Homo sapiens: one gene and its partner. The protein of the gene in region 2 interacts with the protein of the main gene of each other region in a pairwise test. Each region holds a gene or a part of one and is shown on either strand. Other genes may lie near its edges.

Region 1 (3,500 bases), on a different chromosome or scaffold from region 2:
GTTTTTCTTTCCTCCAGAATCCCAGCCATTCTTCTCCCCAAAACTTAATCTAAAGCTAAAACTAAACTGTATTAATGGCAACCACCCAAGAATCAAATTGGCTCTATAAATCATACTGCCTAATAGAAGTCAAGATTAAAATAGGGTAGTTAAAACTGAATAAAAACTTCTTACCATTGTATTTTATTATTTCATGTTATAGTTAGAGTTTTTTTTTCTACACTTACTGTCCATCTTCACTCCAGACTGCCATACACTTGTCTCCTACTTTCCATGAATGAGTAGGTTGAGTAGAAGCAAAACTGTCTGAACTTGCAAGCGTCTCAGAAGGTTGAGTTGACAGAAGGTCTTTGGTTAGTTCTATAACTTCCTAAAAAAGAAAAACAAAAACTACAACATTATTTTTATAATTCTCATTGTCAACTTAGTTTCTGATGACAGCCTTCATACTGTACGTTAAGTACTCTACATATATTTCATTTGCAGCTCATAACACTATTAAGCAAGTACTGTGATTATCCCCATGTAGAAACTGATACAGTATTGTCTACCAGTTAAGTGGCAGAGCTGTGACTTAAGCCCATATAGTTGCCTTTCAACTTAACCACAAATACTAATGAAAATATAAGACTTGAGCTTATACCATGCATTATTTCTAAGTGCCTATTTTAGCTGAATAGATCTCTCTAAAGATGAGAAAGTCAAGTATGAGGCACTGAATTAGATACTCTTATTGTAACATATTTTATGCAACTGTACTGTTTTATAGGGCATTACTCAGCAGTATTAACTGCCAAGCAATCCCAAAACACTTTAAGCAGCTTTATTAGTAACAAAAATGTTCCTACTTATACATATCTCGACTAAAATACTACAGGCAATGTAAAAGAAACCAGTGGTCTTCCTATTCAATTATTGTAAAACTCACCCCATCTGGGTAAGCAAATTACCAGGTTAGATTTTAAATGTTCCATACCTTAATGTTAAGCACATTAGCACAGCTTCATTTAAAAGGGGGAAAAAAAGGTAACACACAAAGGCAATGCCTTTCTGTGTGGCAAATATTTTTTTCTAATTCAGGCTTACATTTATTGGCTTCATTCAAAGATGTTTGGTGTAGGGATGGCTAAAAAATTGAGAACAGTACAAGCCGACAGATTCTGCTACCTGTCTACTATATTGTTACTCTAATGAAGATCCACACTATGCATCTTATCTGATCTAAGAACTTGCATAGCTGTTCACCCATTGTTGCATTTAAAACATCATACTGTGTGTTTGGGGAGAAAAATTAACAAAGTTAAACTATGTACTGAGTTTCTTCTAGTTCCCACTGAGGTTTCATAATAGTAATTTTGATTCCAGTAGCCAAGAAAGTTAAATATTACCTCTCTCCTAAAGATTCTAAATCTTCCTGGCTATTTCTGAAAAAACTAATATTTGAGTCTTAAATCTCTTGAAGAAAGGTTAGTTTTATAAATAAATAAATAGAACACTTAGGTTTGATTTAAAAATTTAGTAGGAATAATATCTCTAAGTTTTATTAGTTGCCAACTAGCCATTAATTAGATCTTTTTAATTAGACAGTCCTTTGCAAACAAAGCAAAGAACCTTCCAAATAACTAGATCAAGTAGTACACAACAGAAGAGTAAATTATCTGGTCTTATTTTTAACCACTTTTAGGGGTAGGAATGTAATCCAGTCAGCCTGACTCAAGAGCCCACACAAATCTCTATCATTAAATACTTCCAGATCCACCTAGGGATCATTTAACTTAAGCACAGACATGAATTCTGCACTTGTAGGTTTCAGATTTAGAACTCTATTTCTTTTAGGACAGAACTGTTTTCCAAATATATTTTGTTAAAGAAATATATTTCATCAAAGAAAAGGGTCCTGAAAAGCTGTGCATATTAGTGAATTCAGAGGCCTGTGCTGAAATGACCCTTTTTTAGAAAAAATCCAGAGCATTTACTCCTAATGTCCTTTAACTTTGCCATGGTTTTACATAACCCTCCCAACAAACTATGAAGAACCTTCTAAATTTCTATTCTTCACATGTGCGTATGGACCAAAGTATTAGAAAAACTATTTTATGTATGAGGGGGTTCTTGAAGGTACATACCATTAATTACTTTTCCTCCCTCAAGTCTGAGTTCTGAAACTGCTCCTTCATCGACAGATGGGCAGCAGTTACAGTAATCGGCAATTCCAGGAAGCATCAGGTGTTGTGATCTACATATCAGCAGGTCAAATGGGGTGCACTCAAGCACTCTGCTTACTGAAGGAAGGCGTTTCGGGGATGCAGAGAGCCACTGTAATATATGAGACAAGTGACTTGACCCCTGCCTCCTTTAGAACCAGCTTATTCAGCAAAACAGCCTAATAAATTGACTATCTCTGATTATCATAGACTGCCCGGGGAGCTAGTCAGCTAGCTAGCCTGGATTTTATCACACCCACTTTTTTAAGTGAAAAAAGAAAGGCAGGACTTTAGTAGATTATTTTGCTGCCTGCTGAATAACTTTAGTCTCTATGAAAGACAGTACATGAAAGAGATAAACATGGAAACCTTACTGGCAAAATGAAGTCATTGAAAAGATGCAAAAAAAGCATTTTGTCATAAAACAAAGGGCAAACAAATTAATAACTGGGATAAGGATCTAATTCTATAGAGGAACACAAGAAATTAGAAACCATATGATGGTCAAAAAATATTAATATGAGGAAGCCACAAAATCAGTCTGAACAGACTTTTCACCAAATATAACAAGCTGAATTAAATACCCATAGCATGAGATACATCCCAGAAGGCAGAGAAGGAAAAAGGAGGGGAATGAGGGGGGGAACCCCACAGCAAAATAGAAGCTGTTAAGTGTAGTCTCAATGGAGACAACAATTACTGAGTGGAAGCTTATAGCCAAATACTTTTCAGAGTATTACCTCATCTTAAAAGATGGTTTCCGTTTTTGAGTAGTTTTCAATTCAAAATAGACCTTATCTAGGGACCAAAATGAAATTTCTAATGATAGAATAAAATGGGAAGAAACTCTGATCAAGACTGGTCAGGAAAAACATTCTGTTATTACTATCTGAAGTATTAAAACTTGCACTTCTAAATCCTTGCCATCCAGTATGGTAGTCACGTGTGGCTAATTAAGTTATACTAAAAACTCAGCTCCTAAGTAAACCTAGCTGTATTTCAAATATCCAACCAAATGTGGCTAGTGGCTATGGTACTGAATAGCAGATATAGAACATTTCCATCATCACAGAAAGTTCTACTGGACAGTGCTGTTTTAAATGGTTATAGAAAAGAGGATACTTTACAGAAAAATGATTTCCAGGTCATTATTAACTGAACCCCTGCAAGCAAGCCTTTTAGGGGCTTACTACAGTGTTTATCACAATGGTTTCCCCCTACAGTACTTTCCACTATGATGATCATGACATGGTAAGGCAGTTCTGCTCAGACTCTAATGAGGAATTATTCTAGAAA
Region 2 (3,500 bases):
CTACCACGCCCAGCTGATTTTTTGTATTTCTAGTAGAGACGGGGTTTCACCGTGTTAGCCAGGATGGTCTCGATCTCCTGACCTCGTGATCCTCCCGCCTCAGCCTCCCAAAGTGCTGGGATTATAGGCGTGAGCCACCGCGCCCGGCCTCCTTGGATATTTGTATGAGATTTTACGAATTCATATGCATAAGGCTTTTAGTTTTTTGAAATGAAGTGAGGAATTATTTGCTCTGGTGCCTGGGTGGAACAGCAAGTCAGGAAGAACTATGGAAGGTGGAATGAGATAAACTTATCTCCTACCAGGCCTTAAGGACTAAATCTGAGCCTTCAAAAAGGCCCCAGAAACTATTTATATAAGCAGGAGGCTTTGGGGCCCAGCAACAAAGAACAACTGGGGGCGGGGAACAGAAGAAGAGCAGGTACCAGCAGAGAATTACAACAGAAAAAGACAGTACTGGGCAGAATGGCATTCTTGCCAAAGTTACCAGCAGCAATGGCAGTCATAAAGCAATACCTCAAGAGGCGTTCAGGGAGTAGACTCCAATAAGGAGGCTGGAGCAGAACTTGGCTTATTTCTGAACATGAGAGACAATTCCTGAAAACTAAATTCCTACAACATTAATACTGGTTCTCTAAGAAGCCGGGACTTTTTCAGTAAGTACTCTTCAGAGATAAATAGAAGAAAATTGAAAGATGAGGGTGCTGAGATATGTGAAGGTAGGGCTGGGCACAGTAGCTCATGCCTATAATCCCAGCACTTTGGGAGGCTGAGGTGGGAGGATCACTCAAGGCTAAGAGTTCAAGACAAGCCTAGGCAACATAGTGAGATCCATTTCTAAAAAAAAAAAAAAAAAAAAAAAAAATTAGCCAGGCACAGTGGTGTGGACCTGAGGTCTCAGATACTTGAGAAGCTGAGACTGGAGGATTGCTTGTCCCTAGGAGTTCAAGGCTGTAGCGAGCTATGACTGCGCCACTGCACACCAGCCTGAGCAATAGAGCAAGACCCTATCTCTAAAAAAAAAAGTTGATTAAAAAAAGATAACAAATATGCAGGTGGGAACTTATAAAACAGAGAACAAATACTATGGTTATTATCATCTAATTTGTATGCATAAATTGAAGAATCTGGGATAAGGCAGGATACATGAAAACCTTTTTTTTTAATTTTTATTTTTTGATTGCTCCTTCAGAAGAAAAACTATTAATAGCAATTACCTATAAAGACTGGTCTGAAGAGATCAGCGAATAGGAAGAGACTTTTGTTTTGAGACACAGTCTCGCACTGTCACCCAGGCTGGAGTGCAATGGTGCGATCTCGGCTCACTGCAACCTCCGCTTCCCAGATTCAAGCGATTCTCCTGCCTCAGCCTCCCAAGTAGCTGGGATTATAGGCACTGGCCACCACGCCCCACTAATTTTTGTATTTTTAGTAGAGACTGGGTTTCACCATGTTGGCCAGGTTAGTCTCGAATTCCTGACCTCGTAATCCGCCCACCTCAGCCTCCCAAAGTGTTGGGAGTATAGGCATGAGCCACTGCACCTGGCCTGAGACTTTTTCTTTTTTTTTTTTAAGACAGGGTTTCACTCTGGTGCCCAGGCTGGAGTGCAGTGGCATAGTCACAGCTCACTGCAGCTTCAAACTCCAAAGCTGAAGCAATCTTCCCACCTCAGCCTCTCAAGTAGCTGGGACTACAGGCAGACGCCACCAGGCCAGGCTAATTTTTGTATTTTTTGTAGAGACGGGGTTTCGCCATATTGCCCAGGCTGGTCTTGAACTCCTGAGCTCAAGTGATCCAACCACCTCATCCTCCCAAAGTGCTGGGATTATAGGCGTGAGCCACTGTGCTGGGTCTCAGTAAGTACTCTTCTGTATAATTAGAATTTGTTTCTAATCTTAATAAACATTTACTACTTTTGTAATAATGTACCACTTTTATAATAAAGAATTCATTAATAGAAATAAGCACATTTTACTGCTCGCTTCAGCAGCACATATACTAGAAATAAGCACATTTTAAAAATAGAAGATATATGGCCGGGCGCAGTGACTCATGCCTGTAATCCCAGCACTTTGGGAGGCCAAGGCAGTCGGACCTCAGGTCAGGAGTTCGAGACCAGCTTGACCAATATGGCGAAACCCCGTCTCTACTAAAAATACAAAATTAGCCAGGCGTGGTGGCTCATGCCTGTAATTCCAGCTACTCGGGAGGCCGAGGCAGGAGAATCACTTGAACCCAGGAGGCGGTGGTTGCGGTGAGCTGAGATTGCACCATTGCACTCCAGCCTGGGTAACAAGGGCAAAACTCTCTCAAAAAAAAAAAAAAAGAAATGGAGGGGCTGGGCACAGTGGCTCATGCCTGTAATCCCAGCACTTTGGGAGGCCGAGGCAGGCGGATCACCTGAGGTTGGGAGTTCAAGACCAGCCTGACCAACATGGAGAAACCCTGTCTCTACTATAAATACAAAAATTAGTCGGGCATGGTGGCGTGCACCTGTAATCCCAGCTACTTGGGAGGCTGAGGCAGGAGAATCGTTTGAACCTGGGAGGTAGAGGTTGCGGTGAGCCGAGATCACGCCATCGCACTCCAGCCTGGGCAACAAGAGCAACAAGAGCGAAACTCCATACCGCCCCCCGCCCCCCCGCCCCCAAAAAAAGATATACATGTACTATACCTAAAAGCAAACATGAAAACATTAATACTGGTTTTAATACTGGTTCTCTAAGAAGGCTTCAGGGGTTAAAGAACTAGATAACCATAAAAAATATTCCACTTGAAGAGTGATTCAGTCACATTTTATGAAGCACTATCACATAATTATCTAATTTCATTCTCAAAAACTTGACAATATAGAGAACAATAGCTAAGGCAACAGAATTTGACATTAAGTGTCTTGCCCAGATTGCACAGCTAATAAGCAGCACTGCCCAGCCTCCTAACTTTATATTCTTAAGTCTAGTACTTCCTTCACTATATCCAAAGGTAAATCCAACAACAATTCATTCCCGTTTCCAAGTCTCATATTCATGACTGTGAAATAAATAATTTTCGGTAGAGAATTTGTATTCCTGCTACCAGCAGCACTGTCCACGCACTTCCCCAGATAGCATATACTAAATACTCACGAATTTAATTAAACAGATGATCAGGAAGAATTTACTGCCAACCATTTAAAAATGGATTCCAAAAAGAAACATAAATTATTTAAAACATTATTCACTGATTACATCTTACATTCCATTGCTCCACTCAAATAGTATAAATATTCAGGAGTTGGCTAAAGTTTTACAATGTTTTACAAAGGATCACCTACCTCCCAGACTAGTACACATTTGTTGGTTTTCTTCACAGCTTCCTCATCAGACTCCTCATCATCTGGAAGAGAAATCTTGTTACAGACTTAGACTTGAGATTCAGGTTCTAAACAAATAATATTCAAGTCTACCCAAACTCTCTAAAATATTATCACCCTTTTTATGTGTTGGACCAAGTGTTCTCT

Evidence for each region. The genes of interacting proteins can lie anywhere in the genome.
Region 1: the proteins of PRPF3 (region 2) and SMNDC1 interact in binary tests that used the Homo sapiens proteins (3 or more experiments, as listed by UniProt).

Annotation. Positions count from the first base shown.
Region 1 is NC_000010.11:110,298,421-110,301,920, forward strand, and holds part of SMNDC1 (survival of motor neuron-related-splicing factor 30), read right to left. Parts: intron 2,317-3,500; exon of another isoform or gene 2,130-2,316; coding exon of another isoform or gene 2,127-2,129; intron 371-2,126; coding exon 228-370; intron 1-227. UniProt on the Homo sapiens protein: Involved in spliceosome assembly.
Region 2 is NC_000001.11:150,349,033-150,352,532, reverse strand, and holds part of PRPF3 (U4/U6 small nuclear ribonucleoprotein Prp3), read right to left. Parts: intron 3,377-3,500; coding exon 3,315-3,376; intron 1-3,314. UniProt on the Homo sapiens protein: Plays a role in pre-mRNA splicing as component of the U4/U6-U5 tri-snRNP complex that is involved in spliceosome assembly, and as component of the precatalytic spliceosome (spliceosome B complex).